5 separate regions of the Homo sapiens genome follow, and regions 2, 3, 4 and 5 are each linked to region 1. Evidence: fine-mapped expression QTL. A gene starts in region 1. Each other region holds a variant in brackets. All regions are shown on one strand. Distances are from middle to middle. Region 1 holds the start of PRKCB (protein kinase C beta). Region 2 overlaps PRKCB (protein kinase C beta). Region 3 overlaps PRKCB (protein kinase C beta). Region 4 overlaps PRKCB (protein kinase C beta). Region 5 overlaps PRKCB (protein kinase C beta).

Region 1 (6,306 bases):
TTGTTTGCACCAGGGCCTAAGTTGTTGCCACTTAAAGAGACTTGAGGAGTCCTCTGGTGTGGTGCAGAGGATCCAAATCTTGGTAAGACAGGCTGGGTAGGTTGGCAGGGCTCACTGAGCCCACCGGGACCCCGATCTCAGAAGAGTATGCAAGAGTCTCAGAGGAGCACAGTGCCATGCTGCCAGCAAGCAAACATTCTGCACCACTGACGATGCCACCTACACTCACTAGGGATCACTTTACTTTTCCCTGGAGGGTGGAGGTGCAGCCACAAAACTGTCAGTCAGTGCTAAATCACGTCAGACTCTTCCACACTCAAATACTTTCTTTTGATTTAAACCCAGCTCACCAGGGTGGTGGTCACTTTGCCCCTAAAGATACAATACCCCAGAAATGTGCCGTTTCTTACCAAACTCAATCTTACCAAGCCCAAGAGTGAAAAATTAAAATTTAAATTAAAAAGAAAACATAACACACAAACTTTCCAGATGAGAGGTTGCAAACTTAAATGCCCACAGGGGCCAGAAATGGGTGAAGTGTTCCCCACTGGGATCAACTGAGACAAAATGGTAAGGCTGTTCCCCATCTACGACGACGGCTCTCAGCTCCAAACGATTGTTTTCAAGCGAAAGTGAGACCATTTCTCAGCAAAGTTAAAGTTGGAAATTAGGATGTGTATGTGAAATCTCCCAGTTCTAAAACGTTCACATCAAATTCACAAGTAAGACACCCTAAGGGCTACACAGAGCTGCGGGTAACTTTTGGTCCTGGAGAGCCAATTTGCAATCTGTCTTTTAGACATGAGCCCCAAAGACGGGGGAGGGGGACACTTTACACGTGATCAACTCACCACCAGCAGGTTTGATACCCCTGGTTAGAGTCCAGGATCTCAAGCCAGATGCAAGAACTCAGGTAACCAGTGCCCTGGAGACCTTTCTGTTTCAACCCAGAAGATAGGGTGATTTAAACCAGGATCTGAGAAACACTCCCTCTGGAAATACTTCTTTCAGAGAGAGAGGAGGCCCAGGCGACAAACACAGTCGCCTTTCTAGGGGATGCACCATCTGCAGAGGAGCGGCAGCCACCTGCAGAGACCTCTGCAAGGCAGGGAGAGGCAGAACCTCCCTGGGTGAGATAAGGAAGGGACATGGGCAGAGAAAGGGGAACTAAGGAGGACAGGTTCTCCCAGAAACGTCCCGGGAAAACACTTTCTCCCCCAGCGGAACTGACCATGCCAGGATTGCTTCAGGAGACCGCTTTGACTCTTCCAGAGCCGGGAAGGCAGGAAGGGTAGGTGAACTTCCTTGGCATGTAAGACTCCCAAGCGCCATCGGCCCCAGTCACACACACACCCCTTGAAAGGACCCTGTTGTGGTGAAGAATTCCTAGCCTGGGAGGTCACTCCGACCAACGTGATTCTTTCACTCTCTGCCTAACTCAGTAACTTCTTCTATAAAGTATTTTTCACCCTCTCTTCCCACAAATAGCATCCCCAAAGCCCCAGAGCCTACCTTGGCACTGGAATCCCTGCTTCCCGAAGCCCCTGCAAAAGCAGAAGGAGGTGTATGTCAGGCAGCCCGGGGGGCCCAGCCTCCAGCTAGTTACCCACAGAGTCACCCGCCTTCCTCCCTGCCTCTGTACCCCAGGTGCAAACTCCCAGCCACAGGCGGGTGCCCAAGAGTCTTCCGCCTTTGTGGGGGTAGGTGGGAGCTCGGCTGTAACCCCCATCTGCCTTCACTCCTGCAGAAGAGAGGAGGCTGCGACCACCAGGTGGCGGGATAGTGGGGAGCGTTTCCGTCGGGGTAGGGGCTGAAGGCAGGCGACAGATGTACCCATAGATGCCCCGAGCACCCTCGGGAAAAGAGAAGAGATAAAGACGCATTCAGAGGGAGGGCGAGAGTGACCCCGCGGCGGTGGTGTCCTCTGGGAGGGGGACTGGGAAGGAGGAAAGGATGCCCCACTACTGGAGGGACTGGGGAAGAAAGGGGCCCGCAGTGATGTGACCGAGGAGTGGAAAGGGGAACCCAGGCCCTCGGGGAGGGGCAATGGGAGATAACACAGGGCGCTGCCCGGAGGCACAGAGGAGTGAGAAAGGATGTCCCATGCCCGCAGGGAGATAGAGAAGGACACCCAGGGCGCCGCCCCCCCCGGAAACAAGGGGTGGGGGGCGAGGGCTCCTCGCGCCCGGAAGCAGGCGGAGAGATAGGGAACCCCGGGTCGGAGAGCACCCGAGGCGCTGCCCTCCAGGGCAGGCACAGACCCCGCGCGCTCCTAGTCAGGTGGAGCAAAGGCTCCCGCGACGCCGCCCCTGGGCGCTCTAGAGGCGCCTGAGAGCAGGAGAGGGCAGGAGGCGCCCCGCGGCGGCCCGTCTGGGACCAGGGTGGGGACAGGGCAACGGCAGGACTGTCCATCCGGGAGTCCCGGGCAGCAGGGTCCGGAGCCGGGAGTCCGGAGACGCGGGGTCCCAGGGTGCGGAGGGCGCGGAGGGCGCAGAGGGCGCGGAGAGGGGGTCCCTGGCGCGGCGCTGCCCTCGGGGGCCCGGGAAGGTGCCCTGCGCGCGCGCGCTCACCAGATGAAGTCGGTGCAGTGGCTGCAGAAGGTGGGCTGCTTGAAGAAGCGGGCGGTGAATTTGTGGTTCTTGACCTCATGCACGTTCTTCTGCCGGAGGGCGCCTTTGCGGGCGAAGCGCACGGTGCTCTCCTCGCCCTCGCTCGGCGGCGGCCCCGCAGCCGGGTCAGCCATCTTGCGCGCGGGGAGCCGGAGCCCGAGAGGTGCCGGCCCCGGGGCCGCGGGACCGCGGGCTGCGGGCCGGGGAGGCGCGGGAGGCGGCGGCCGCTGCTGCACCCGGGGCCGCGGGCGCTTCCCCTGCGCCGGCTCTGGCGGCCGCGGCGCGCGGAGCCGGGGCTGTCACTCGCCCAGCTGCTGCCGCTCGTCCAGCTGCGCTTGGCACCGCTGGCCCCAGCTGCGGGGGAGGGAGGCGGAGCCCCGGGCCAGCCCCGCCCTCCTCATTTGCATCGCGCCCAGGCCCCGCCCAGCGCTGCCAGCTGCTTTACATATCGGCGCCCGGGCTACCGCGGGCCTCGCGGCTAAGCGTGCACAGCCGCAGCTCTGCAGCGCCGGGACCGCAGCCCGGGGTCGTCGGACCCGAGCCTCGCCCCCCACCCCACCCCGTCCTCGGCCCCCGGGGCTGCGTTCAGGAGATGTGCCCAGGGGAGGAGCGAGAGTGGAAAGACCTACGGGGCGAAGGGGAGCGGGTGGAAGGGGTGGGGCGCAGCGAATTCCACCCCGGCCTCTGCGGAGACTGGTACCCATCCACCCCCATCCATCCCATTGGTCATTCTGCACGCGTCTCCTGGAGGGATGGGCTCCCGCTGTCACTCATTCGGAAAGGCTTGTGGCCGCACACACTTACACACACATACACACACACGTTCTGCAGAGGTAGGGGAGGAGCGATCTTTATTTTATATGTCTCTAACTCCACCACAGAGAAGATTCTTGGCTTTGCTTGCCTCCTGCACGTTTGGAAGAGAACTCCCTACCTTCTGTCCATCCCCTCTGCAAAACGACTCCGTTTCCCCAACTGTAACATAGGGCTAATAGTGTGGGGAGGAAGGATTTCAGTAGATCAATATTTTTCCAAATTTCATTCATTTCTGACTCGTCTTCACAAATTCTGGTCGTATTTGTGCACCCTCTGGGGGAAAAAAAGCCTATCTCTTTTGGTCTGAGTTTGAACAGCAAGAGGTATCTACATTATTAAAATATCTCCAGGTGCCGTCATCTGTCCTAAGCATCTTCGACTGAAGTCATCTTTTATTTGTTAAGAGAGGAAATTAATAAATGCTAGAGGGGTGTTAAAGACATTACTATCCAACCAGGACTCTCTCCTTGATGTGATCTGAAGGTAACTGAAAGGGTAATAATTGTCTACAATGTGTAATTCAATGTTATTTAGCGCCCTGTTCATGCACAAGGCCTAAAGATACCCACTGCCACCATGTCCCCCACTCTGGGAACGCAGAGCTTCATTAGGCTGTGAGCTCCTTCACCAGACCTAGGCTCTGTGAGAGCAGGGGGGCTGTTCACCACCATGTCGCCCAGCACCAAGCTCAGTGCCTGACACCTCCCAAGACCCCAGTAAATATTGGTTGATTGAGTGAGGGCATGGATGAACAAGTGAATGAATGAAGACTTAAAGGTCGGCACTTCTTACCCCCACTCACACCCAGTAGGTGTTTAATAATAAATATCAAGTGATTGCTGGGCATCAGGTACTTGTGCTGTCTTATTTAGCCCCCGCAACAACCCTATGTAGATCTGGTAACTTTCATTATGGATAAGGATGGGGAGGTTCAGAGTGATTAAGATACACCCACAGTCATACCGTTGCTGAATGGTGATTGGGCTGGCCTGACTACAAAGCATCCTGGTGACAAAGGGGTGAACCTGAGTAGTGGTGGATGAAGGGGGGCAGGCTGGAGTTGCACGAGCTCAGGTCCCACTATGACAATTTTGCCTGGAAGCTGCTGAGTGGTAAGTCATTATTAGGTAGCATGTCGAGAGCAAGGGCTGCAATAATAGAATGTCCCTCTCCTACATAGTAATTCAAAGGTAAGGAGGAAAAAATAGCATTCACTTTTAAGGTTGACATGTTTGGGAAACTGGATGTGCCTGTCTATTATTAGTCCTTGAAGAGGCCCCACCACCTCCCAGGGAGGCTTGGGAAAACATCCCAGGAGACATTGCTGCTGAAGTAGATTTCCTTTGAACTGATGAGCTGGAAGCTCACAGCCCACATCCTGCCTTTTGAATGAAGTGCCCTGGATGACTTTGGTCTGTAACAACAAACAGTACCTCATGGCGCCGGGGCCTGGGGATGCAAGGGCTGTGGATGGAAAAGAGCCACTTGGTTCCTGAAGGCGTTGCACCAAGTGAGGATGAGAAATGTGGTTCCCATTGGACCCAGATTCCTGTAGGTCAGGGTCTCAAACTGGTGGCTCCAGATGCTCTATTTTTTTTAAGCTAGCCCAGTGGGTTGTTGTTGTTGTTGTTGTTTTTTAAGTTCACGGGTCATAGAATTTTACTTAAATATCCAGATTCTGACTTATCTAGGAAAAAAGATAGAGCTAAATGGAGCCTACATTCCTCCCTCACTCATACATTTGTTCTTTCAATCAACAAATTGCTTATTAAGCACCTACTGTGTGCTGTTCCAGATACTGTTAAACAAACCAGACAAAGGTCCCTGCCCTAGTGGAGCTTATAGTCTAATGGGGAAGGGGGAGTAATAACCTAACCAACTAACGAATCCATACCTGGTGGTGTATAATAGAATGTTTGTAAATAAAAATAAAGCATTATTATAAAGACCACAGGGAAATCCTTTATAATATGGGGACATCTGAGTAAGGCCTGAATAAAGTGAGAGGGTGAGCCAGGGGACTATCGAGAGTTTCCAGACAGAGAAAACAGAAAATGCAAAGAGCCTAGGGGAGTATCAAGCTTGGTATGTTGGAGAAATAGCGAGAAGGCCTCAGTGGTTGGATGAACAGAGAGGAGAGAGGACTTATGAGATGAGGTCAGGGAGGTAGCAGGGCCCCAAAGGGCTTTGCAAATGTGATAAGGAGTTTGGATTTCACTCCAGTGAATGGAAGCCATTGGAGGGTTGGAAGCTGAGGAGTGGCCTGATACAACTTATGGGGTTTTCATTTTAAAAGCTTACCCTAGCTACTATGTGGAAATTAGAGGAGAAAGGGTGGAGGCAGGAAGAGCAGTGAAGAGGTCAACTGAGCAGATCAGGCAAGAGATTAGGGCAACATGGCATAGTGCCAACAGGAGCTGCAGGGCAGCAGCTCCCCGTAGATTGGGCATGGGTCCTCCTTGCCACCAGAGCCCCCCAGGCCCACTCTGCTCATGAAGGAGTGAATGCTGGTCACTTGAAAGATTTCAGAGGCAGTGAGGGGGCAGGTTGCTGTGGCTGAGAATGGAGTCCAAGGTCCCTTTGCTCCAGACCTGTGGCTGCCATAAAAAATTATAACAGAACAGGGTGGCTAGAAATAACAAAAATTTATTCTCTCATCATTCTGGAGGCCAGAAACCATAAGTCACAGTGTCAGCAGGGCCACATTCCCTCTGGAGGTTTCAGAGGGGAACGCTTCCTTGCCTTTTGTGGCTTCTGGAGGCTGTCAGCATTCCCTGGCTTCCCTGGCTTGTGGTCACATCGCTCCCATCCTCCTCTGTCTTTATATCACCCTCTCCTCTGTGTGCCTATCTTCACCCCTTCTGTTTCTCTAATATCCCCT
Region 2 (6,306 bases), 88 kb before region 1:
CCAGACAATAATTTTGGTAATAGCAGAGGCTACGCCTGTTGTGTTCACTGTGAGACACCTCAGCACCACCACCACCATACGCAGTAAGAAGTATTCAATAAATACTTTAATGGATAAATAAATCGACCAATGTATACATCGAAGCTTTTGAGAAAACTTGCTTTTAAAAATCTGGCAGGACAATTTTTTGAAGCTTGGGAGCTGCCTTGTAGACTGAGATCTTTTACCTGAATTTTGGGCAGCTATCCAAAGAAGAAATTATTATATAAAAGATGCCTGCACTCATACGTTTATCACAGTACAATAGCAAAGATATGGAATCAACTTAAGCATCAATCAATGGATGACTGGATAAAGAAAATGTATATATATTTATATATACATATATATTAATATACATATCATTGTGTGTATATAGACACACATACCACCATATATATACATATATACACGTATGTGTGTGGTATATGTATGTATATCTATATATACATACACACAATAGAATACTACTCAGCCATAAAAAAGAGTAAGACCTTTGATTTTATTTTTATTTATTTATTTATTATTTATTTTTTTTGAAACAGTCTCACTCTGTCGCCCAGGCTGGAGTGCAGTGGGGCAATCTCGGCTCACTGCAACCTCCACCTCCCGGGTTCAAGTGATTCTTCCACCTCGGCCTCCTGAGTAGCTGGGACTACAGGCACCCGCCATCATGCCCAGCTAATTTTTGTATTTTTGCAGAGATGGGGCTTCACCATGTTGGCAAGGCTGGTCTTGAAGTCCTGACTAAAACAGGGTCTCACTCTGTCACCCAGGCTGGGGGGCAGTTGTGTGATCATAGCTCACTGCAGCCTTGAACTCCTGGGCTCAAGAGATCCTCCTGCCTCAGCCTCTCAAGAAACTGGGACCACAGGTACACAACACGATGCCTGGCTAATTTAATTTTTATAGAGCCGGAGTCTCACCAAGTTGCTCAGGCTGGTTTCAAACTCCTGGGCTCAAGTGATCTTCCTTCGTCAGCCTCCCAGTGTGCTAATATGACAGGCATGAGCCACCATGCCCAGTCTGAAATCATGTCTTTTGCAGCAACAGGATGGAACCCAAAGCCATTATCTTAAAAAAAAAAAACTCAGAAAGAGAAAGTCAAATAATGCATATTCTTAGTTATAAATGGGAACTATATAATACACATAGACACAGAGTATGGAATAATAGTCATTCTCCAATGGCTACTGAATGACTGTTGAGTAATAGTCATCCTTCTTGGAAGGGTTGGGTGGGGGAGTGAAGGATAAGAAATCACTTAATGAGTACAGGGTACCCTATCTGGGTGATGGACATACCAAAAGCACAGATTCTACCACTAAATAACATATCCATGTAACAAAATTGCACTTGTGCCTTCTCAATTTATACAAGTAAAAACTTTTTTTAAAAAATTTAAGAAGTCCTCATGTTTGGAAGAGAGACAGGATGACCTCAGACAGGGATGCTGGGTTTCGGCACTTCAAGGCTGACAAGACAATGTCAAGAATGGAGTCCTTGGATCCCCAGTCCCCTAGAAATGGGATGCAAGCTCTCTGTCCTTGGAAACGGCCAACCTTAAGAACACAGGCATCCTGGTTAACGAGAGGAGGGTCACGTCCAGGAAGAGAGTGATTATCATGGCCACAGATACCCAATGACCAGTCAGGTCTGAAAGAGCCCCAATGGGCAAGTCCTGCAGAATGAAAAGGGAGAGAGGAGTGATCCACTAAGATGTTATCAGGGCAGAGGATGGGGACCCCATTGTAGGGCACTCCAGGCAAAATTTTACAGGAAGAAATAGCCAAGAAGTGACAATGTCAATGCTTTCCTATTTTATGTTCTTTCCATCCCATTCTCTCTTTCCTCATCTCTCAACATTCTTCTAGTCATTGTGCTCCATTTTCCCTCCACTGAGGGGTCATATTGAGGTAAACTAGAAGGCAGTTAAATAACTATACCCCAGATGTGCCAATCAATGGTCAAATATTGACCTGGAAGACCTTACCTAATGAATTGAAATAGGGTCCTCCCACTTGGTCCCAGTCCGTAAATCATTTTACCCAGGTCCAGAATGAACCTATATAGCATTTACTCATTAAATGAGCAGACAACATGTGATTGGGTGGGTCTAAGGAGACTTTGCAGTTTTGTTGTTGTTGTTTATAATTGACAAGTAAAAATTGTATACATCTGTAGTGTACAACATGATGTTTTCCTACATGTATACATAGTGAAATGGCTAAATCAAGCTATTTAACATATGCATTTTTTCGTAGTGAGAACACTTAAAATCTACTCTCTTGGCAATTTTCAACTATGCAATATATTGGAATTAACTAGTCACCATGGTATACGTGGAGCCTTTGAATTTTAGGATCAGGATGTAGAGATATCTTAGTTTATTAGGAAGTAACTAAACAAAGATAAATATTAGAGGCTTGTGTTTGGGTATTGAAAAATTAATTAATATATGTGTCACAAGAGGAAACAGAAACTAGATGGTTAACAAGAAGAACACAGAAATAGAGAAGTTCAGTTGTGTGGTGGTCGCCAGATCAAATATTCTGATTCTCCCCTCCTCCCAAGTACACAGCAATATGATACTTGCCCAGCCGCTTTGAAGTTAGGCATGGCCATGCGTATTAGTCGGTTCTCACACTGCTATCTTGATACTACCCGAGACTGGGTAATTTCTAGAGGAAAGAGATTTAAATGACTCACAGTTCCGCATGGTTGGGGAGGCCTCAGGAAACTTACAATTATGACAGAAGGCGAAGGGGAAGCAAGCTTGGACCTTCTCACATGGCTACGGGAGAGAGAAGAGTGAGGAGTGAAGGGGGAGGAGCCCCTTATAAAACCATCAGCTCTTGTGAGAACTCACTCAGTATCATGAGAACAGCATGGGAGAAACTGCCCCTATGATCCATTCACCTCCCACCAGTTCTCTCCCTAGACACATGGGGATTATGGGGATTACAATTCAAGATGAGATTTGGGTGGGGACACAAAGTCTAATCATATCACAATGTGACTTGCTTTGGCCAGTGATACACGCTTGGCAGTGACAAGTGTTTATAGGGAGCGCTTCAAGGACCAATACGAGACTTGCCAATCATTTTCCTCCCTCAGTGATCATGGAAGCATGCTTCAAGTTGGTGTGCTTCTATTGGGTAGGTTACTTCTGTGACCACAATGAGCAATCCCTTCCCTTACATGTTCACCCGTGTCAAAACAGGTTGATTATGGTTGGGACCAGAAATAATGTCTGGAACTATGGAGATGCCAATATCATCTCAGTATTAGGAGAAA[C/T]CCTGTCATTATTAGAGCTGCACAAACACACCATTTTGGGGGTAGCATGTTAGTAACTGAAGATTGGACAGTCACCAATGGCGTGCTATGAAGGGAATTCAAGCATTAGATGGTTCAGTGAGTATTCAATTAACCTTATTTTAATAACAATACCAAATATCCTTCTGGAGAACTATTCCTTTCCCACTCTTGGTCCACATAATTCAGGTAGTGTTAATTCCATCCGGAACTCCAAGAGTAGATAAGGGTGGTCAATCAGCACATTGCTTTTTCACTGGCCCTAGTAGCTAATTTAGAGCCTGTGAGATATAACAAGAGAAAGAGGTGCTCTTCTCTACATGGACTTGAACCTAGAGGAAATGTGAGTAGAGCTTCCATAGCCATCTCACCTTGATGAGGGGAGTCTCTTCCATCTGAGAAGGGAGCCAATACATAAGCAGAGATGGAATAAAGGAAACCATGTCCTGGAAACATAACAAACCCCTGGATCAGACAATACCTGAAGGCAGCTACCCTTGGACTTTTTGGTTTTATAAAGGCAATAAATTCCCTTCTGAATTAAGCTAGTTTGAATTTTCTGTCACCTGTCATAACCAAGATTCCTGCCTCATACAAAGGGTGGTTGAAATACATGAATTTTAAGGTTCTGTCCCAACCTGAAATTTTAAGATTCAAATAACAGCATTCACTAGCTAACTACATTTAGCATTAAAAGGTGTAGGTAGCTAGGAGGCAGGAAAAAAAGGTAACTCTAAAGAACAGACAGATCTATTAAGATTGGTCAAGGCTGCAAAAATCTAAACTATGTCTGTAACACTGGCTACCTAAATTAAATGCCCTCTGGATCTTAGCCACTGAGTGTGGCTCATGTGGACATTGGCCACCATTCTACCCATGAAGCCATAATTATAAATCAAACCACATTTCCTGATCCCTCAGTAAGGTGCAGCATTGTGTTATGCTGGCAGGAGCTACTGTGGCTAAGGCCCTGGAGGAAGGGTAGTTTGCTATTTTTCTTTTTGAAAATGTGTTGTCAAAGCAAAGGTGTCATTTAGAGAAAATGTAACTGAAGTTTCTGCAGAGATCATTCTGTAGTGACCAACACAGTCACTGTATATTTCAAAGTTGACATTTCCAAGATGTATCATAGCTCTTTCACATGCTATCATCACACAAAAAAACTAGGTAGCTCTGCTAAATAACATTTGCATATAGTCTTTAAAAATGCAAATAGAGTATAGATGAGAGGTTGCAGAGATCTAGCCTAGAGACATCTTTTTTTGGTCCATACCATGTCTTTAATAAAAAGAAAAACAAGAAATTTTGCATGAAATCCAGATTTCTGGCTTCTCTTGAAAAAGTAGAAGAGCTGGCAGCCCTAGGATCATATTCCAACAGAGGAAAAATTACTACTGGTGCCCCTTTAAACAAAACACCCACTATTCAATTCAACATGGGTTCCTGCCACCACCTCTGTTTTATACCCACCCACTTCACTCATTTAGGTCTCCTGCCTAATTTCTGTAGGATTTGAGTCTACAACTCTTTTACATTTACAAATTTGTCCACAGATAACTATTAAGACGTCATTTTTATCAGCCAATGTCCTTCTAAACATGCTGGAATTCAATGTTTTCATTATCATCCGATAGTGTTCTATGCACCATAACACCAAACATCTCAGTCAGTAATTACCCATGAACTTCCATGCCTTCAAGCCTTTGCTCTTACTGTTCCCCTGCCTGCTCTGCCCTTTCCCTAAGTCTTTGCTGTTGGAACCCAGCTGAGCCTATAAGATTCAACTCAAATGCCTTCTTCTTGTGAGGCCTGCCTTGATGCCCACCCAAGAATTAGGGTTCAGAATTAATGATCTATTTCCTGGCATTATTGTGATATGAGGGTATAGCATATCTTTTTTTATTTATTTTTTCTTTTTTTGACAGAGTCTTGCTGGAGTACAGTTGTGCAATTTTGGCTCACTGCAACCTCTGCCTCTCAGATTCAAGCAATTCTCCTGCCTCAGCCTCCCAAGTAGCTGGGATGACAGATGGGTGCCGCCACACCCAGCTAACTTTTGTATTTTTAGTAGAAACAGGGTTTTGCCATGTTGGTCAGGCTGATCTTGAACTCCTGGCCTCAAGTGATCTGCCCACCTGTAATCCCAAAGTGCTGGGATTACAGACGTGAGCCATCTTGCCTGGCCTAGCACATCTTTATCACACCTCAACCCTTATTTCTTCCCATTTTCTATAATAGTTTATAACGATCAGGCTGTCTCCTCACGAGACCGAAAGCTCTTCAAGGACAAGCACTAAGTCCCCAATACCTTAATGGCAACTTAATCACTTATAAGGTACCAGCACCTTACCTGTCTTTTCTCATTTAAACCCCACACAATCCCTATGAGGTGGGTCTTATTAATATTGCCATTTGAAAGATGAGGAAACTGAGACCTAGAGAGACTCAGAGCCCAAGAGTGGTTTTCTTAAGCCCTCTACTACTTGGGCACACATTCTTCATTACCCTGTGATATGGTTTGGCTGTGGCCCCACCCAAATCTCACTTTGAATTGTAATAATCCCTGCATGTCAAGGGTGGGGCTAGGTGGAAATAACTGAATCATGGGGGTGGTTTCCCCCATACTGTTCTCATGGTAGTGAATAAATCTCAGGTGATCTGACGGTTTCATAAATGGGAGTTCCCCTGCACATGCTGTCTCCTGCCTGCCACCATGTAAGACGTGACTTTGCCCCTCATTTGCCTTCTGCCATGATCGTGAGGCCTCCCCAGCCATGTGGAACTGTGAGTCCATTAAACCTCTTTCCTTTATAAATTACCTGGTCTCAGGTGTGTCTTTATTAGCAGCATGAGAACAGACTAACACACTCTGTATGTAGAAGGCAACAGAATGTGCTGGGTGGAGCCGAACACTTCTGTTAAATAACTTCCACCAATTTCTGCAGGACTCTT
Region 3 (6,306 bases), 78 kb before region 1:
AGTGAGCCAAGATCACACCACTGCACTCCAGCCTGGGTGACAAAGCCAGACTCTGTTTCAAAAAAAAGAATGAGGATGTTCTATATGCACTGACATGGAACAAACACCAAGATACAGGATATTGTGAAGTGAAGAAAGCAAGGTAAGCTAACATTTGAATGTACGTGTTTGAGGAAGAGAAAAATAAATGTATATGATGTGCATGTACATTATGAACTATTTCCAGAAGTATACACAATAAATTGGTATTATTAGTTGAATATTGGGTGCCAAAAAGGAGGTGAACAGAGTGGCCTAAGGGCTAGGGATAGGAGAGAAATCTTTCAATAAAAGTATTAAAGCTCTTGTGCCTTTTTAATTTTGAACCAGTGAGTACATATAACTATTCGAAATTTAATGTTAACCTTTCTACAAATGAGACCATAGAAACAATTATAGAATAGGATACAATGATGCATAAAAAAAGATACTGCAATATCGAGCATGGTGCTCAAGCCTGTAATCCCAGCACTTTGGAAGGCTGAGGTGGGAGAACTGCTTGTTTGTGGCCAGGAGTTCAAGACCAGCCTGGGCTACATAGTAAGACCTCGTCTCAAAAAAAAAAAAAAAAAAAAAATTAGCCACATGTGGTGGCATGCACCTGTAGTCCCAGCTACTCGGCAGGCTGAGGTGGGAGAATCGCTTGAGCCCAGGAGATTGAGGCTGCAGTGAGCTGTGATCACCCCACTGCACTCCAGCCTGGGCAACTGAGCAAGATCCTGTCTCTAAAAAATTAAAATTAAAATTAAAGAAAAGATACTGCAGATCTATATTTCTTAACTCGGAAAGACATTCATCATATATTAATTGTGAGGTAGGGTAAAAAGCAGATTTCTGAATAACATGTATTAAGTTTGGTTTCTAATTTTAATTTAAAATACATATAAATGTAGATTGATTAAAATATGCTAAAACATAAACAGGAATGTTAACGATCGAGTTTTTTCTGAGTAGTGGAATTAGAGGTGATTTTTATTTTCTTCTCTTTGTATACCTTCATTTTCTAATTGTTCTATCATAAGCAAGCATTTAAGAATTGTAAAAAGTATTTTTAAATTAAAAAAATAAAGAATCCATCTTTCTGCTTTTTTTTTTTTTTTTTTTTTTTGATAGAGAGTCTCACTCTTGCCCAGGCTGGAATGCAGTGGTGCAATCAAAGCTCACTGCAGCCTCCACCTCCTGGGCTCATGCAATCATCCTACTTCAGTGTCCACTAGTAGCTGGGACTACAGGTGCAGGTCATCAATTTTTGTATTTTTGTATTTTGTATTTTTTATAGAGACTGGGGTCCCACTGTGTTGTCAGGGCTGGTCTAGACCTCTTGGGCTCAAGCAATCCTTCTGCCTCTGCCTCCCGAAGTGCTGGGGTTACAGGCGTGAACTACAGCTCCCAGCCTCTGCTTTTGTTCTACACAGTTCACTCCTTCCGGGGCAAGGCAATGGCTCTGACACTGCTGCAGGACTTCATGGTGAATTCCTTATTTGGAGGGACAGCATAGGGGCCGCCAGAAAATATCGCCATGGCCAGAAGCAGAGCAAGGGAGAGAGGGTTTTAAAAGGCAGGGCTGTAAACCTCAGCATAAAATAAGCAGCCAGCCTCTCATTTCAGTCATGTAAACAGTAATGTGTATTCATTAAAACTGCATTAGTCTAAGGAGTCCCCAGAGATCAGGGGCTAACGGGAGAAGGGGTAGGGGAGAGGCTGCCAACTGCACCTGCTGTTTTCTAACACAGTGCAAACAGGCCAAAAGTGGGTTTCTGGTGCATGTCACAGCCAGAAAAGGCTGCCCAGAGGGGCTTCACAGCCCCCATCCATCTTGTTAAAGGTAAACAGACATGGAGAAAACAGAAGCACCCAGGACCCCAAACATCTGGCTTGGACTGGCTTGACCCCAGTGTGTTCTGCTTAAATAGTTTTCAAGGAGAATATATGCTTAAAAGCTGAGGCACGGTGGACATCACCAGTACAGTCCACTGCAGAGCTGGACTGGCCCATGAAGAAGACACTACAGGCAGCCTCCTCCCCCTTCATCTAGAACCCAGGCATTGCCCAAATGAGTGAAATCGATTGGGCACAAGAGCTGTGGCCAACACATATTGAAAGCTCCCTGTTCTAAGGGCTGTGCAGGTCTTAACTCATTTAAACCTCCCAACAGCCTTGTGAGGTGGGTGCTATGTCATCCGCACTTATGGGCAAGGAAAATGAGGCATAGAGACATTAATTAATTTGCCCAAGATCACCCAACCAAGGGGTGGTGTCCAGACTTACAGAGAAATCTCACTCCAGAGCCCACAATCTTGGTTCCAACACCATTCTGCCTCTCCCAGATGCTCACCAAGCATCCAATTCAGGGTGGAGTTTCAAGACAGTGACTTATGATGCTGTGCTAAGGATCTTCTGGGTAGCTAATGAGAAAAGGAACCACCACTGCCAAATCCACAAATGCCAATGATGGGCTGTACTGGCCCCACTGTGTTGATTAAGTAACTGAGGCTTAAAAGCCTAGGGATATTTCAGCTGTTCAGGAAGCTGAGGCAGAAGGATCACTTGAGGCCAGGAGTTTGACATGAGCCCGGGCAACATAACAAGACCTCATCCCAAAAATAATAAAATAAAATGAAAATTAGCTGGGCAGGGAGGCACATGCCTGTAGTCTCAGCTACTTAGGAACTCGGGAGGCTGAAGCAAGATTGCTTGAGCCTGGGAATTTGAGGCTGCAGTGAGCTATGATTGTGCTACTGCACTCCAGCCTGGGCAACACAAGAGC[C/T]TGCCCCAAAAGAAAAGAAAAAAAAAACACAGCTTGGGGATATTTTCACATACTGGGGAGCATTCCCACCCCTACAACAGGATTGGAAAATGGGGGCCATCTCTGTCCCAAGGCAAATGGCACACAGGGGGCACAGCTTAAGCTAAGGAAACTCAGAGGAGCAGCAACAGTCCCTGGAGGGAGGGAGCCAAGTTCCCTATTCCTTTCGTGGAGCATACAGCCAAACATCACCTGCACAGGAATTCTGAGATGAAGGACAAAGAGGACTCAGGAGATTTTAAGAGATTCTTCAACCCTTCCTGCACTGAGCCAGAAAAGTCAGAAGAGCTTCCTTCCCCAGAAATGGAGCAGAGCCACAGCTTCATGCTTATTTTTTCCCCTCTCCTAAGATATCACCGTTCAGACTCAAGCTTTCAAGGCTAGCTAGTCTGATGTTAACCATTTTTGTCACATTATTCTCCTCCCGCACTCAGAAATGACTAGCTTGGCTTTCCCACTTCTACAACCTTGGGAAGAAGGGGAAGCTGAAGTTCAGAGCTCCAGGTCTGCCTTTTCACCCAATAGTGGGCACCATTGAAGGCTTATCTCCCCAGTGATATGATGTCTACACTGACTGCCTCCCTCACCCATGGCACTGGGACTCTATGATCCCCTCCTTGACTAAGCCTGGCCAGTCAGATTTTTTTTTTTTGACATGATTTGGGCCCAATAGGAGGAAGGTCGGTCTGGCTGAAGGAAAGGAAGAGAACTGGGAACTGGAAGACAGTTGGGTCTCCCCTTGTGTTCTCTCGGCTTCTCCTTGTCCATATTCATGGTTCTTGCCTCTCGGTACACCTGCTTTCCTGTTCCTTACTCTACATACTGGATGGAAGATGGCCTCCCAGGGCTGCCTGGTGTCCACCTCCTTGAACCTCAGCCTCCATTCTGAAGTCTGTGAAACAATCTGATTTGCCTGCAATCCCAGCATTTGGAGAGGTCAAGGTGGGCAGATCGCTTAAGCCCAGGAGTTCAAGACCAGTCTCTATAAAAAATACAACAATTAGCTGGGCGTGGTGGCACATATCTGTAGTCCCAGCTACTTGGGAGGCTGAGGCAGGAGGACAACTTGAGCCCAGGAGTTCGAGGCTGCAGTGAGCTTTGATTGCACCACTGCACTCCAGCCTAGGCAACAGAGCATGACTCCATATCAAAAAATAAATAAATAAATAAATAAATAAAGGCCAGGCACGGTGGCTCACACCTGTAATCCCAGCCCTTTGGGAGGCCAAAGAGGGTGGATCACCTGAGGTCAGGAGTTCGAGACCAGCCTGCCCAACAGGGTGAGACCCCATCTATACTAAAAATACAAAAATTAGCCGGGTGAGGTGGCACACGTCTGCAATCCCAGCTACTCTGGAGGCTGAGGCAGGAGAATCGCTGGAACCCAGGAGGCGGAGACTGCAGTGAGCCTAGATCACGCCACTGCACTCCAGCCTGGGCAACAGAGAGAGACTCTGTCTCAAAAAAAAAAAAAAAAAAAAAAAGAAGAAAGAAAGAAAGGAAAAGAAGAAGTTAACTAAACAGTAAAACCACAGGCAAAAAGTAACAGCAAGCAGGGCAAGCATCAGGACACGGGGCTGACCAAGATTCAGTAGAACAGGGGCCTCCAGGGAAGGTTCTGTTCATCAGCAGCTGTTCACCATTGATCAGGTGAGGCTGCACTATGAGAGGAACAATGGACTACTTGAATATAGATGCTACCCTCAAGTGGCTTATAGCAGAGGCAAAAGATTCTCCAACAAAATCATTAGTGAGTATAATAATATGAGGGGAAATGCAATTAAGGGTTAAACGGTAGATTCTAAGTGAAAGATGATCTCTGAAAAGTCCAGCTCCCTGGAGGGTATAAAGGGGTGGCGCAGTTAGGTACAGTGGCTCATGTCTGTAATCCCAGCGCTTTGGGAGGCGGAGGTGGGTGGATCACCTGAGGTCAGGAGTTCGAGACTAGCGTGGCTAACATGGCAAAACTCCGTCTCTACTAAAAATACAAAACTTAGCTGGGCATGGTGGTGCGCACCTGAAATCCCAGCTACTCGGGAGGCTGAGGCAGGAGAATCACCTGAACCCAGAAGGCGGAGGTTGCAGTGAGCCGAGATCCTGCCACTGCACTCCAGCCCGGGCAAACAGTGAGACTCCATCTCAAAAAAAAAAAAAAAAAAAAAAAATGTGGGTCGCGCATATCCCAGGACAAGACAAACGGCAGTATCTTTGAAGAAGGACATCTCATGTAAGACAGTTCAGAGGCCAGCGTGGCTGCACTGAGGCTCCTGGGAACAGAGGCACCACAGGCTGGAAAGGTGAGTGGGAAACAGTTGATGGAGGAGGTCATGTCCAAGCAGGATTTCTACTCTTCCATCACTGCAAACCACGTTTATGACGTTTGTCATGTCCACACACCATCTGCAATATGATTAATAGTTTTCTTTAAACTGACTTACTTTTCAACTTAAAGTCACTCAGGAAATGGCCTGCAAAAGTTAAACACAGAGCTCTTATAGGGCCCAGCAATTCCACTCCTAGGAAGACACCCAAGAGAATTGAAAACATGCTTATACAAAAAATTGGACCAGGCATGGTAGCGCATGCCTGTAATCCCAGCACTTTGGGAGGCCGAGGTGGGTGGATCACTTGAGCTCAGGAGTTGAAGAACAGCCTGGGCAATAAAGTGAGACCCTGTGTCTACAAAAAATAAACAAATCAGTTGGGCATAGTGGCACATGCCTGTAGTCCCAGCTATCTGGGAAGCTGAGGTGGAAGATGATCACTTGAGCCTGGGAGTTCAAGGCTGCAATGAGCTGTGATTGTGCCACTGCGCTCCAGCCTGGGTGACCTTGTCTCAAAAAAAAAAAAAAAAAAAAAAAAAGCATATATACGTTTATGGCTATTTATAACAGCCAAAAAGTGGAAACAACTCAAATGCTCACTAATTGATGAATAAATAGACAAAATATGGTCCATCCACCCAATGGAAAGTGATCTAACCATTAAGAGGAATGAGGTACTGATACATGCCTTGGATGAGCCTTGAAAACATTATTCTAAGAAGCCAGTCACAAAGGATCATTCATTGTATGATTCTATTTATACAAAATGTCTAGGATAGGCAAATCTACAGAAACGGAATTAGTTTGTTGGTTACCAGGGGCCGCAGGGAAGAGAGAAAAAAAATGGAGAGCGACTGCTAATGGGGTTCAGGGTTTCTTTCGGGGGTGATGAGAATGTTCTGGAATTAAATAGTGGTGATGGCTTACAACATTATAAATATGTTTAAAACCACTGAATTGTACATTTTAAATGGTTAAAATGTGAATTTTACATTATATGAATTTTATCTCAATTAAAACATTATTTTTAAATGGGATTAAAAAAATCAATATCTCTGAATATAACTCTAAGTTTCCCATGAAAATAAAACACAACGAGAACAAAATAATGTTAGTTCATTCTGGCTTGACATCATT
Region 4 (6,306 bases), 200 kb before region 1:
AGTGATCCTCCTGCCTCAGCCTCCCAAGTAGCTGGGATTACAGTCGTGCACCACCACACTTGGCTAATTTTTTGTATTTTTAGTAGAGATGATGTTTCGACATGTTGCCCAGGCTGACTCCTGAGTTCAAGTGATCCACCCACCTCGGTCTTCCAAAGCGCTGGGATTATAGGCATGAGCCACTGTGCCTGGCCTATTGTTTTTTTCTTTTTCTTTTCGTTTCTTTTTTTTTTTTTTTAAACGTCTTGTCTTAAGCCACCCAGTTTGTGGTATTTTGTTATGGCAGCCACAGCAAATGGATACACCTCCTATCAGTGTGTCCTGAGAAGCGGGGGCTTGTGATCCAGGTTCTCAAAGTTCACAGCATATCTATGATTAAGGGGGAAGACTTTGACCTTGAACTTGAAGAAATATTGTACTGTACCACATCAGAACAAAGACTCCCTAAGGAATGCCCATAGGAGGTGCCCTAGCCAAACCACAAAAGGAATAAATACGGTGGAGGGCATAGAGAAACGAAACGAAACTAAACTAAACAAAAAAGTAACCTACTATATAGTACTTTTGAGTCAAACAGACCTAGGTGAGGAAATGTGTTTTCTGATGGGTAGAATGATAACTTAACTCATTTGAGTTGTTGAAACAATGTAAATCAGATACTGCCTGTAAGTGCTTTTCACAATGATTAACACATTTTAAAAACTAAACACATCTTAGCTATTGTTTTATTATTATTGCAAATGGTGTGAGCTCTTGGAATATAACTTCTCTGAGCCGTGGCTTCTTTGTTCATAAAACAAGAATAATAGAAGGTTGGGCGCAGTGGCTCACACCTGTAATCCCAGCACTTTGGGAGGCCGAGATGGGCGGATCACTTGAGGTCAGGAGTTCTAGACCAGCCTGGCCAACGTGGTGAAACCCTGTCTCTACTAAAAATACAAATATTAGCCAGGCGTGGTGGTGGGCGCCTGTAATCCCAGCTACTCAGGAGGCTGAGGCAGGAGAATCGCTTGAACCCGGGAGGTGGAGGTTCCAGTGAGCTAAGATGGCGCCACCACACTCCAGCCTGGGCAACAGATGGAGTCTCCCTCTCAAACAAGAATAATAGAGATTTCACAATGTTGTGAAGGTGGAAAGAGATAACACGTAAGGTTTAGAGCACTGCACATCCCATGCGGCCCATAAATGTTGGCTGCCCGCAGTCATGCTTTGGAACGAGTGTATTTCCCACAGAATGACACCAGAGGGAAGCAGAGTCTCATATTTGTCTCACCAGCATCGGGAACCTCAATCAGTGGGGAAAACTGGCTTCCCTTGAACCTGAAACTGCGGGATTTCCCCTGGGGCCCCCAAGCATCACACTGGGAGGCAGGCGACCACTTGGAGGAAAACATAATGCAATGGATTGCACATTTTCTAAAATCTCACTGGGCTTCACGAAATCTCAAGTTTAAAAGAATTATATTGTACAGGGATAAGTATTTTTCAGCTTTTACACAATCTACGTAAAGCCCCTCCGCAACCCAGGGCTCAATGCATCAGAGCTACTGAACCAGTCTGAGGCCTCAGAAACACTAATTTTTGCAAAATTAATCTCTTCCATGATCAATTTCCTGAGTTACCAACTCATAAACCCTTATTTATATTCATTAGATATATAAAGTCCACAGTAGTTTGTCACTAGCCTTTGAGAAGAAATTCCTGCAAAGTTTTAGCTCCACTCCCAGCCAGCTCAGTGCTGGTTATACCGGGGCTTATGGCTGAGTATTCCTCAAGCCAGTGCTGCTGAGTTCCAATTTTGCTTGAACTTCCCATATCAGAGCCAGGTATGTCTTGAATGCTGGGATACATGAGTGACAGCCCCACCACCACCACCACCACCACCACCAGCAGCTCCTCCTCTCACTGCATCTCCCAGGAGACTGTACCATCCTGCTTTCTAATTATCATGAAATATTTTAGACATGCAGAAAATATAGAGAATAATAAAATTACAGCATAGCCACCATCAGGTTCAAGAAAGAAATATTTCAAATATGTGGAAAGCCCCTGAATTGCACCCTCCAACCCTCCTCCTTCCCAAGATATTATATTCTCCAAATCTGGGGTTTATCATCAAGACTCCATTTTTCCTGCTGGAAAAGTTTGCGGAAGAAGCAAGCTTCCCTTCTCTGCTATCTGAGTAAAGGAAATGCAACTACCCATCCCAAAAGATTACTAAAAAAGAGTGGGAAATGAGAAGGAGAGAAGGGAAGTGGAGGATCCTGAGGAAGTTAGAAGTCCAAGGAACTCAGACGTCTCCTCTCTGAACCCAAGTCAGCCTGGGGTGCTGATGGACGAAGCTTTGAGGGTGTACAGTTTCTAAAGATCCCCCTGCTGCAGGGAGGGGCTGTCATGGGCAGGGCATGGGGCAGAAGCAGTGCCACACCCCCTCCCCGTCCCTGGACTGCCCCACCCCTCCACTGGACTGCCCCACCCCTCCGCCACCCTCCCCTTCTCAATCACACAGGTCAAGCAAGGTCAGGAGCCAGTGGAGCCCCAGGGCCACCTACCGAGGACAATGAGGACGTCCCTGTCGATGTGGGCCTGGATGTAGATGCGGCCGCGGCGCTCCGTGTGGTCCGTGCCACACAGGCTGGGAACATTCATCACGCAGCGCTTGTGCACATTCATCATGCAGGCTGTGAGGGCAGAGAGAGGGGATGTGGCTTAGGCTGGCCCAGGCTGGGGGCTGCAGACATCTGCCCCACCCAAGACCGCTGAGC[C/A]CTTCCTGTTTCCCTCCTTTGAGACAGCTGAGACACACGAGCCTGGCTGAGACCAACTTGCCTGCCAGGATCTCATCAGAAGGGCTTTTCCAACTCTTCCCCCTGAACCCTGATGGGCAAAGGAGGTAGAACTTGTCTGTTCCCCACCCACAGCCAAGGGTGCAGTCTGAAGCAAGCACACCCCACACCCCTTAAGGCTCTGAAGCCAGAGTCACCAACTTCAATGCTCACAGGCTGGCTGGTCACATGAGTGAGGAAAGCTAAGGGGGTGGCAGGGACTTGGCCAAGCCAAGTGGGAAACAGAGCAAAAACATTCCCCATTTCTCAACGTATGCAGGAATCTCGATGTGTACGTGACAGCTCTGATTTTTAAATATTAACAGCTAATAGGTTGGGCTCCCTGGAAAGAGTCTGAGACGGGGAGTTTTGAGCACAAGGTTTTTGGGGAGTGCTCTTGTGGGGAGAAGTTCGTTTGCCACGTGGATGCAATCAAAGCTGATGTTAGGGGGAGCCCAGAGCTGAGATGACCCTTCAGAGTTGTTCCAAACTGAGACAAGAGGGCTGGGCACCACAATCATCTGGTCTCCCTGGAAGAGGCATTATCTTGGGCAATTATGCAGGATGGGGCACTGCTGTGAACCACAGCTAGGGGATGGGGTGGGACCATGAAGAGGGGGTCTGGGCTGGCCATAGTGTCCACCATAATTAATTACAAGGAAAAAGATTTAGAGCCAGGGCAGGGTGGATAAAATGTGCCTATACACTGAATTTGGCCTTCGGCCATCTCTCATGTTATAGGATATCCACTCCCTCTGCGCACTCCTCCGTAGAGTATCTGTGTCTATTTCAATGTGGTGGGTGATTTCTTCTAGGTCTTGAGCAATAATGCCCCACTCCAGGAAGGTGTGCCAGGCACCCAGGATTCTCCAGGGGGACGCTAGTTCCAGTTGGAGAAGCCAGAAGGAGAGGCCAAGTCACCCCATGGGCCCCTATTTCAAGGGATCTGGGGGCAAGGGACCCTTCTCAGACCACCCAAGTCCCAGGAGGCAGCAGGCCTATTACAAAAACTAGAAATGAGTTGTGGGGAGGGAAGGGAGAGCCCTCTGGGACCTGAGCACCAGCCTGAGCTCCCACCCACCACTGTCTCTGAGGCAGGGACATTGTCCCTATATTAGGGCCCCATGTGTGGTAAGAGGAGCTGGTGTCCTGCAGGCAGAAGGCTCCAACCTCACTGTCCCCCTGTGGCTCTTGCCATGTTTCTGTGTCTGTCTCTCTGTTTCCACGTTGCTGCATGTCTCTTGTCTCTGCTGTCCCACTTCTGCACGTGGCTCACTGCCTTGGCCGTGTCTGTGAATCGGTCTGTTCCACTCTCTGCACTTGTCTCTGGCCTCTTTGTCTCTCCCTTTCTCCAACTGTGTCTCTCTGCCTCTCTCCTCCGTGTCTCTCTGTGGCTCTCCATGTGTGCTTCTGTCTCTGTCTCTGGTCTTTCCATCTCTATACCTCTGCATGAGCCTGTGTAATGGCGTCTCTCTCTGTGTCCATGCCAATCATTTTATCTTTTCTTCTTCTTCTTCTTTGAGAGTCTCACTCTGTCACCCAGGCTGGAGTGCAGTAGTGTGATCTCAGCTCACTGCAACCTCTGCTTCCTGGGTTCAAGTGATTTTCCTGCCTCAGCCTCCCAAGTAGCTGGGATTACAAGTACCCACCACCTTGACTGGCTAATTTTTGTATTTTTAGTAGAGATTGGGTTTTGCCACGTTGGCCAAGCTGGTCTCAAACTCCTGACCTTAGGTGATCCACCCGCCTCAGCCTCCCAAAGTGTTGGGATTACAGGAGTGAACCACTGCACCTGGCTTATCTGTTGGTCTGTGTGTCTGCCTGTCCCTCCTTTTGCCTGAGTCTCTCTCTAGCTGAGTCTCTCTGTAGCTTCCACGCCCCACATTCCTCCCTGTGTTAGGGTTGCATGTGTCCATCTTTCCCCTGCATCTGTGTCTGTCTATGCATGTGTGTTTCTTGCTGTCTGTCTTGCTCCCTACCACCCTTATTCACCCTCACAGTCCTCTCTGTCACTCTCTGCCCTATGACTTTCTCCCTCTGTCCTCTGGGCCTCAGGACCCTTGGGAGAGCAGTACCACTAGCCTCATGACACCCAGCCTGCTGCAGACCAACAGGTCTGTGGGAGCCACCAGCACCTCCAGTGTCCCTGTAGCTTTGTGGCCATAGCTCTCAAAGCCTGTCTGCTCCCCTGCCCCACAGGCCATCCGGGCCTTGGCCTCATAAAGAGGAGTCCTACCCCACCTGCCTTTCCTACCACATCCTGGCCAGAGAATGATGCTCTTTCCTCCTCCAGCACAAACCTGTGGGTGCTGCAGGGCCACAGGTCTTCTCCATGCAAAGAATGCATCAGCCCCACATCTCAATGCTGAAAACAGTGGTGGTGCATGGCTGCAGAAATGCCCATGATTTGTTCATGCCTCTGGGTGTCAACAGCCATGGACTGCCCCTTCCCACACTGTGACTGTGCATCTCACATGCCACTTGCTTTGACCAGTGGATCAGGAGCAAAAGACACAAGTAGAGACTTGAAGTGTGGCTGCCAATGGGACTTGCCCTCCTAAGAAACTCAGGACCCTGTGACCTCCGTGCATGCACGGAGGCTAGGTAGCCTAGCCCACTGAGGAGGAAAGACACGTGGCCTGGTCATCACCATCACCCAGATGACAGCCAGCCATCCTCCAGGACATGTGGGTGAGGCCACCATGGCCCAGACAGCTCCCAGCCCACCTCCATCTGCTAATCCACCATGAACCATGAGTTCATGCTTTATGAACATGCGTGACATCAGCTGAGGCCAGCCCAGATTCAAAGAACTGCCTTGCAGAGTCATGAGCTAAAAAAATGTTTATTGTCTTCAGTCACAGTGTTTTGGGGTGGGAGGATCATTATGCAGCAACAGATAACTGGTACACCAGCCCCAACGAGGACAGGGGGGAATGTATGGCAGACCTGGACCCCAAACCAAGTGGAAGCAGCCCTTCCCATTGCTTCTGCCATCAGCAGATGCCCCCAGAGAGAAAAAGTACTTACTGTCACATTTCATCCCCTGGTGGATGAGTCCATACAGCAGTGACCCACAGTGGTCACAAAACGTGGGGCTGGAGTACGTGTGGATCTTAAACTTGTGTTTGCTGCGGGGGTCCTGGAGCCAAGAGAAACAACAGAAGGAGCCAGCGTCAGTGGAGCATGCCAACGGTTCATCCTACATCGAGAGGCACTGGAGAACTCACCAAGAACTGAACTTGGTCCCCAGAGGTCATTGTACCTGTTGGGACCATCGCTGGAGCCCTGTGCCCAGAAACGGTGCTGGATAAATAGTTGTGGAAGGAATGAAGGACAAAGACAGATGATTGTTCCCTTTGCAGCCCCATGCTCACTCACCCTGCCTGCAAACCCTCCATCTGGGCCTGCCTGGGAACTCAACCTACAGGCTCCTGCCTGTAGTAGGGACTCCAGAGATGGGAAAACAAAGTAACAGACACAT
Region 5 (6,306 bases), 160 kb before region 1:
TCTTGTCCATAACCACTGTGACACAAACAAAGGCTTAAAAAACACCTATGCTGGCCAGGCGCAGTGGCTCACACCTGTAATCCTAGCACTTTGGGAGGCTGAGGCAGGCAGAACGCTTGAGGTCAGGAGTTCAAAACCAGCTGGCCAACATGGTGAAACCCCGTCTCTACAAAAAATACAAAAATTAGCTAGGCGTGGTGGTGGGTGCCTATAATCCGAGCTACTCAGGAGGCTGAGGCAGGAGAATCACTTGTATCTGGGAGGGTTGCGGTGAGCCGAGATCACACCACTGCACTCCAGCCTGGGTAACAGAAAGAGACTCCATTTCACACACACACACGCACGCACGCACACACACACACGCACGCACACACACATACACACACACACACCTGTGCTTTGGGATTTCCCTCTCTTGCCGTGCTTGGAACCGTGAAACTAAGCTAGCCTGGTGGAGGAAAAGAGGACGCATGGAGGAAAAATGAAATGCCCAGATCGACAGCCTGCCAGCCCTCAGTCAATGCTAGCAAGGCTGTTCTAGGTAATCCAGCATCGGCCCAGCCACTAGCTGACCAAGACCCAGGACAGAGCCCAGCAGGGATTACCCAAATAAACCCAGGTCAGAAGAATCACCCAAGTAACCCACACAATCATGAGAAACCACAAATAACTGATGTTTCAAGCCACTAAATTTTGGAATGGTTTGTTACAGAGCAAAATAACTAACCAATAAAGCAGAAATGGAAAAGTATCTTGCAAGTACTGGAGCTTCAGTTCCAGCCTTTGAGGTCCTTGGTCCTGAAGCTCTTACTCTACTCCCAATGTCCTTCTCAGGAGTCAATGGGCCCTCTTTTCCTACTGCTAATTTGAGCTGGATTTCTCTCATTTTCATTTAAAAAAAATTGTAAAGGTTTATTTCTTCTTTGTAATCAGGTACAATTTTAAATGAACAGAAATTCTTCGTTGCTCTAAAATTTAAGAAGTTTTACCCATGAAACATATTTGTCTGGGGTTTTACGAGAAGAAAAGATCCTTGAATAATGTTTTCATTTCTTTCTCGGTTATTTGCCTATTCTGGTTTTCAATTTCTTTTTGAGACAAAATTGACAATTTTATGAGAAAATCATCCATTTCAACCAGATTTTCAAACATGTTCTCACTTATTTACATACTTTAATGTATACATACATTTAATACTTTCATTTCTGTTTTATCAAATCTTCAACATTTAACAAGTTTAACAAGTTTATGATTTTTAATCTATCTTATCACAAAGTGAGACTTGATCAAAAGGATAAGGTCAACATTAGTGTCTACCATCTCTAATTGACCTGATTTAGTGATGGAATTAGGAGATCACAGGACCTAACAGTGGGTTTTACTCAGTAACTTGACTATAAATCATAAGAAATTATTTCTAAAGCCATAAAGTGTTGAAAAAGGTATCTTTAGACAAACCAGACAAAGAGTCCTTTTGTACTGCCTGCCCAGAGACCCTGTTCAATAAAGTTAGCTATTATTATTAGCTATTATTTCTTGGCAGGTCAGAGGGTAACCTGTATCCCTTATAGAGCAGGAGAGGCTCCTCCAGACATTAATAATGATTTTAAAACCAGGTATTGAGTGCCTTCTTTGTGCCAGACATTATTCTAGGGATGGTTCAAGCAGTCTCCTATTGAATAGTTACCAAAAAAAAAAAAACCGCTTTATTTAGGTATTATTTTCTCTATTTTAAAGACATAAACTGAGGGTCACAGAACTTAAAGTTATTTTCCCAAGGTCATTGGAGCAATACATAGCAGAGACCATTTGGAATTTGACACCAGCATTTTCTGGCTCCAAAGTTTGAGTTCTTTTCTTAGCACTGCATCACAGAATTTGAGGTTTGTGTGAAGTAATGGAAATGGAAACTGTAATCACCTCATAAGGGCATGCTCTGGGTGGAAGAATGTAGAGAATTGTCAGTACATTCTTGATTATGGACCTAGGTGGAGCAATGGAAATGGCCTTAGCTACATGTACCAAGGGCTTGCTATGCACTGTGCCAAGCGCTTTCATGTAAGGGCTTTGAAATTCATTTGTCTTTTGTTTGTGAACTCTTTCTCATTTTAAATATTTTTAAAATTATCACTATAAACCTATGTGGTTGGTACTAACATCCTATTTTACATATAAGGAGACTAGGGCATAGAGAAGTCGAACGACATGCCCAAGTTTTCCTAATGAGTATCTGGGCAGAATCAAGACTCAAATTCAGGTATGTCTGATTTCAGAGTCCATACTCTTAACCACCATTGACGTGATCAATAAACTGCCACATTAACCACTTATAGCTAGAGGTGGTTAAGTCCACTGGCGATTGAGGCAGGGAATAAATTAGGTGCATTCTTTTGATGAGGCCATCTATGACTCTGAGCCACACTATAACATGCAGATTTTTATAAAGTCCAGTGTGATGGTCTCCAGGGGTTCTGTTCTGCTATGGCCTCTTGGGTTAACAGGATCTGCAATAGATTAACCATAGATACTTCCTCTCCAATGAGGCACTGGAATCTATTTTTCTACCACTTGAATCTGGACTTGGCCAGAGACTAGCTTTTTAGGACATTAGCAAACATGATACAAAGGCTTAAAAAGTGTTGGGAGATGCTCTCTTGCTCTTCTTGGAGCCTGGAAACCACCATATGAACAAGTCAGAGCTAGCCAGTTGGATGGAGGATGATGCCACATGGACGAGAGCCAAATCACACAGGCCGACAACCTGCTCGTCGTCAGTCATGTGAAAGGGGCCATCTTAGATCATCCACCCACCAGCCAACCAACCAGCTATCCACAGACACAGACAAGAACCCCTTAAACTGTGCCCAGGGAAAGTACCTCACTTGACTCACCCTAGTCCCAACCCTCAGAGACAACTCCTCTGTTTCTTGTTCTGAGATGTCACAGGAGGCTGTGTATGTGGTCAGTATTCTGAGTGCTGAATAACCTATAATGTCCATAAGTAATGCTTATGACAGTACCAGAGACCTGGTCTCTCTAAGAGGTACAAGAGACAGATGAATTGAGGATTTCCTGCCTGGTGAGATCAAGAACAAGAAGGATGACTGTGGGTGACCAGGAGCATCATCCATGAACTCTGCCACACTTTGTGGCCCTCCAATGGCGAGTGCCCATAAATGTTGTCTATTCTCATTGTTATTGAATGGTTGGCTCAGTAGCTAGGTTCACGGGACAGTGCCTGGTTCATAAAATTGCCTCAATGTGATATGATGTGAACATAGCTGTAGGATAATGCCAACAGCACAAAGCTCTACTAATATCCATAATATTGCCTGGCTCAGACTGGGCTTGGAACAGCAGAGGGTAGAGGATGCAACCAAGCACATCCTTTATCGTGGATGGAGCCTTGTCCAAGGTCACCGCCTGTGTGTTTCTGCTTCACGAACTTGCTGCACACCAGTTCCTCCAAGGTCATGCAGAAGGAGAGGGCACCCCTCCATACCTGCATGAGTATCAGGGGCAGCTAAAGGAGAGTCTGGCCAGGTGGGCAAGCAGGTGTGGCTAGGTCTTTAATCATGCCTCCAACCATGAGCAGAAAAAGGTCAATGAACTGAGTCAAGCCAGTTCAGGTGTCTGGACCAATTCATCATCCTTGGTGCCAACTGACCTTTTTGGAACTGTATCCAGAGATAGAATCATTTCAGGTAGGCTGCCAAATCCTATGCATGCTGGCTGCAGGGAGTACTTCCTGCTCTCCTCATGCTCAAGGCAATGAATGGCTGCACTCCTTCATTCATACAGAGAGGGGTCTCATGCCACTTACAGAGCCTCCACACTTCTAGGAAGGACTGCCAGGTGGCAGACAGAGAACCTGCTCATTCTTCAC[C/A]CTTTCCTGGTCTGTCTGACAAGACACCTGTCCTTGCTGGCTGCTCAGCATGTGTGCACTGTTATTCATTGTCATTGTCATCATCATCATCACATATATAGCTCTTGCCATGCACCAGACACTGTCCTAAGTGCTTTTACAGATATCTATGTATTTGATACTCATAACAATGCTATCAAGTAGAAACTATTATTTAACTCATTTTTTAGCTGAGGAATCTAAGGCATAAATGGATTTAAGTTATTTGTCCAAGGTCACACAGATCTGAGGCTAGGAATGCTGGCTCCATAATCCGTGATTTTAACCAGGACACAATACCGTTTCTCTAGCTTTCCTCAGAGAAACTACCTCTTCCCCACTCTCAATCCATGGAAGGGGCACTCACGCCCTCATCTACGGTGTAGGCACAATGTATTAGTCAGGGTTCTCCAAAAAAAAATCAATAACGTGAATTGGTGTACATAATTATGGAAGCCAAGAAGTCCTACAGTCTTCCATCTGCAAGCCAGAGAACCAAGAAAGCCAGGGGTATAGTTTAGTCCAATGTTTGAAATCTGAGCCCAAAGACCTGAGAACCATAGGTGCCAATGGAGTAGGTCCTGGTCCACGTCTGAAGGACTGAGAACCTGGAGCACCAACACCCAAAGGCGGGAAAAAATTAATGTTCCAGCTCAAAAAGAGAGAGTGAATTTACCCTTCCTCTGCCTTTTTGTTCTGAGTCCTCAACAGATTAGATGGTGCCTGCCTATGTCAATGAAGGCAATTTTTCTACTCAGTCTACTGATTCAAATGATAATTTCTTGAAAACACCCTCACAGACATGCCCAGAAATCATGTATTACCAGCTATCTGGGTACCCCCCTTAGCCCAGTCAAGGTTAACTGCATGTGCAAAATTAACCATCACAAGTCCACCCTTTCTCAACTTGGCATCCATACACACCTTCTTAAATAAAGAACCTCCAAATAAAGAATAACAAGGACATAATTCCACCTGATGTGATACAATTAGACTTTGTACAACTGAAAATGCAATAATCCCCTCCCCAGAAAAGGAGATGAAGTCCTTGAGTAATGATTCCTCTTGTCCTGGTATCCTATAACTTAAATACTAAGACATAAAAATACTGATATAAAGTCAATACATCTTACGTTACATGATAAAGAACTAAAAGAGCAAAGAAAACAAAGATATTTGCTCACCATATGTATATATACACACAAACATATCCATAACAAAATAATGCCAATAATCATGCCAATCACAGTCCTTGTTTCTGTAACTGGTCACACGGTCATAGCTGGTATTTGTAACTACTTTCTTCTATTACCTATTCTGTATTCCCTTTACCTTCAGTGGGCACCTCAGCTGGTGGTGGTTCCTTACCTGGCAGGGTGACCCAAACCTTCATTCTTAAAGGGTCTGGGCCATTCATAGTTTTGCCTGTATTGAGTTGTTGTAGTTTTTCATTGATCTTAATCACAGGTAATGGTAATACTAAGAGATGTCTTTAGGGATCTCCTGTATCCAGACACATTTTTCCTTTTCTCCATTGTAGAGTAGTGTCCAATTTCCCCTTAGTAGTCCAGATCAATCACTCCAGCCAACTTCATAACTTCCTTCTTGGCCTGTTAACTCAGAGGCATGGGAACCCCAAAGTGGCTGGGTGGCAGTGTTAACTATCAATAGAATCATTGTTCTGTCTCCTGCTGGAAGTATTCCTCCCTCTGGAACTGAGACCTCCATGCTGGGAGAGCATAAAGTCATGGGAAAAGAAAGCAAAATTTTGCTGGTGGTAAAATTACTAGGGGTAATAATGAGTGGTACCACTCCCATTCCACTTCCTTGATTCCCAGATCCATAAATTTCTGGCTATCAGAGAAAAAGCACCATATACTAGATGCTGATTCAGAGCATATATAGCCTTCTGGAGAATCTTGCCCAGGCATGCAAGGTATTGCTACCTAGCTGGCAACATAACTGACTCTTCAAAAGGCCATTCCACCATTCTATCAAGCCAGCTGCTTCAGAATGATGGGGAACATGGTAAGACCAGTGAATTCCATGAGTGTGAGTTCACTGCCCACCTCTTTGGCTTTGAAGTGATTTCTTTGATCAGACACAATGCTGTGTGGAATTTCATAACAGTGAATAAAGCATGCTCTAAGTCCATGAATGGCAGTTTCAGTAGAAGCACTGCAGGCAGGGAAGGCAAATCTGTATCCAGCATGTCTATTTCCATAAGGATAAAATGCTGCCTCTTCCATAATGGAAGGGGTCCAATGTAATCAACCTGCCGCCAGGTAGCTGGCTGATAACCCCTAGGCATGGTGCCATATCAGGAACTCAGTGTTGGTCTCTGCTGCTGGCAGATTGAGCACTCAGCGGTGGCCATAGCCAGGTCAGCCTTGATGAGTGGA

What was found.
Region 2: its variant is fine-mapped to the expression of PRKCB in spleen (GTEx, PIP above 0.99).
Region 3: its variant is fine-mapped to the expression of PRKCB in tibial artery (GTEx, PIP above 0.99).
Region 4: its variant is fine-mapped to the expression of PRKCB in blood mononuclear cells (TOPMed, PIP above 0.99). The same link has a PIP of 0.9 or more in CD4 T cells, T cells and whole blood.
Region 5: its variant is fine-mapped to the expression of PRKCB in cerebellum (GTEx, PIP above 0.99). The same link has a PIP of 0.9 or more in cerebellar hemisphere.

What each region holds. Positions count from the first base shown.
Region 1 is chr16:23,832,613-23,838,918 of GRCh38, reverse strand. It overlaps PRKCB (protein kinase C beta), which reads right to left and starts at 2,936. Exons shown (of 17, transcript NM_002738.7): 1 at 2,571-2,936; 2 at 1,513-1,544. The coding sequence starts at 2,743. RefSeq lists enhancers at 1,831-1,970, 2,234-2,779, 2,780-3,327 and silencers at 2,281-2,360, 2,691-2,770, 2,801-3,440.
Region 2 is chr16:23,920,753-23,927,058 of GRCh38, reverse strand. All of the region lies in intron 2 of PRKCB (protein kinase C beta), which reads right to left. Among named protein-coding and RNA genes, the nearest start is that of PRKCB, 88 kb to the right of the region's middle. The variant C/T (reference allele first, on the strand shown) is at 3,337.
Region 3 is chr16:23,910,531-23,916,836 of GRCh38, reverse strand. The region is part of intron 2 of PRKCB (protein kinase C beta); the gene reads right to left. Among named protein-coding and RNA genes, the nearest start is that of PRKCB, 78 kb to the right of the region's middle. The variant C/T (reference allele first, on the strand shown) is at 2,807.
Region 4 is chr16:24,031,794-24,038,099 of GRCh38, reverse strand. PRKCB (protein kinase C beta) reads right to left here. Exons shown (of 17, transcript NM_002738.7): 4 at 5,853-5,964; 5 at 2,553-2,681. Among named protein-coding and RNA genes, the nearest start is that of MIR1273H, 170 kb to the left of the region's middle. The variant C/A (reference allele first, on the strand shown) is at 2,766.
Region 5 is chr16:23,996,385-24,002,690 of GRCh38, reverse strand. The region is part of intron 3 of PRKCB (protein kinase C beta); the gene reads right to left. Among named protein-coding and RNA genes, the nearest start is that of PRKCB, 160 kb to the right of the region's middle. RefSeq lists an enhancer at 2,616-2,685. The variant C/A (reference allele first, on the strand shown) is at 3,887.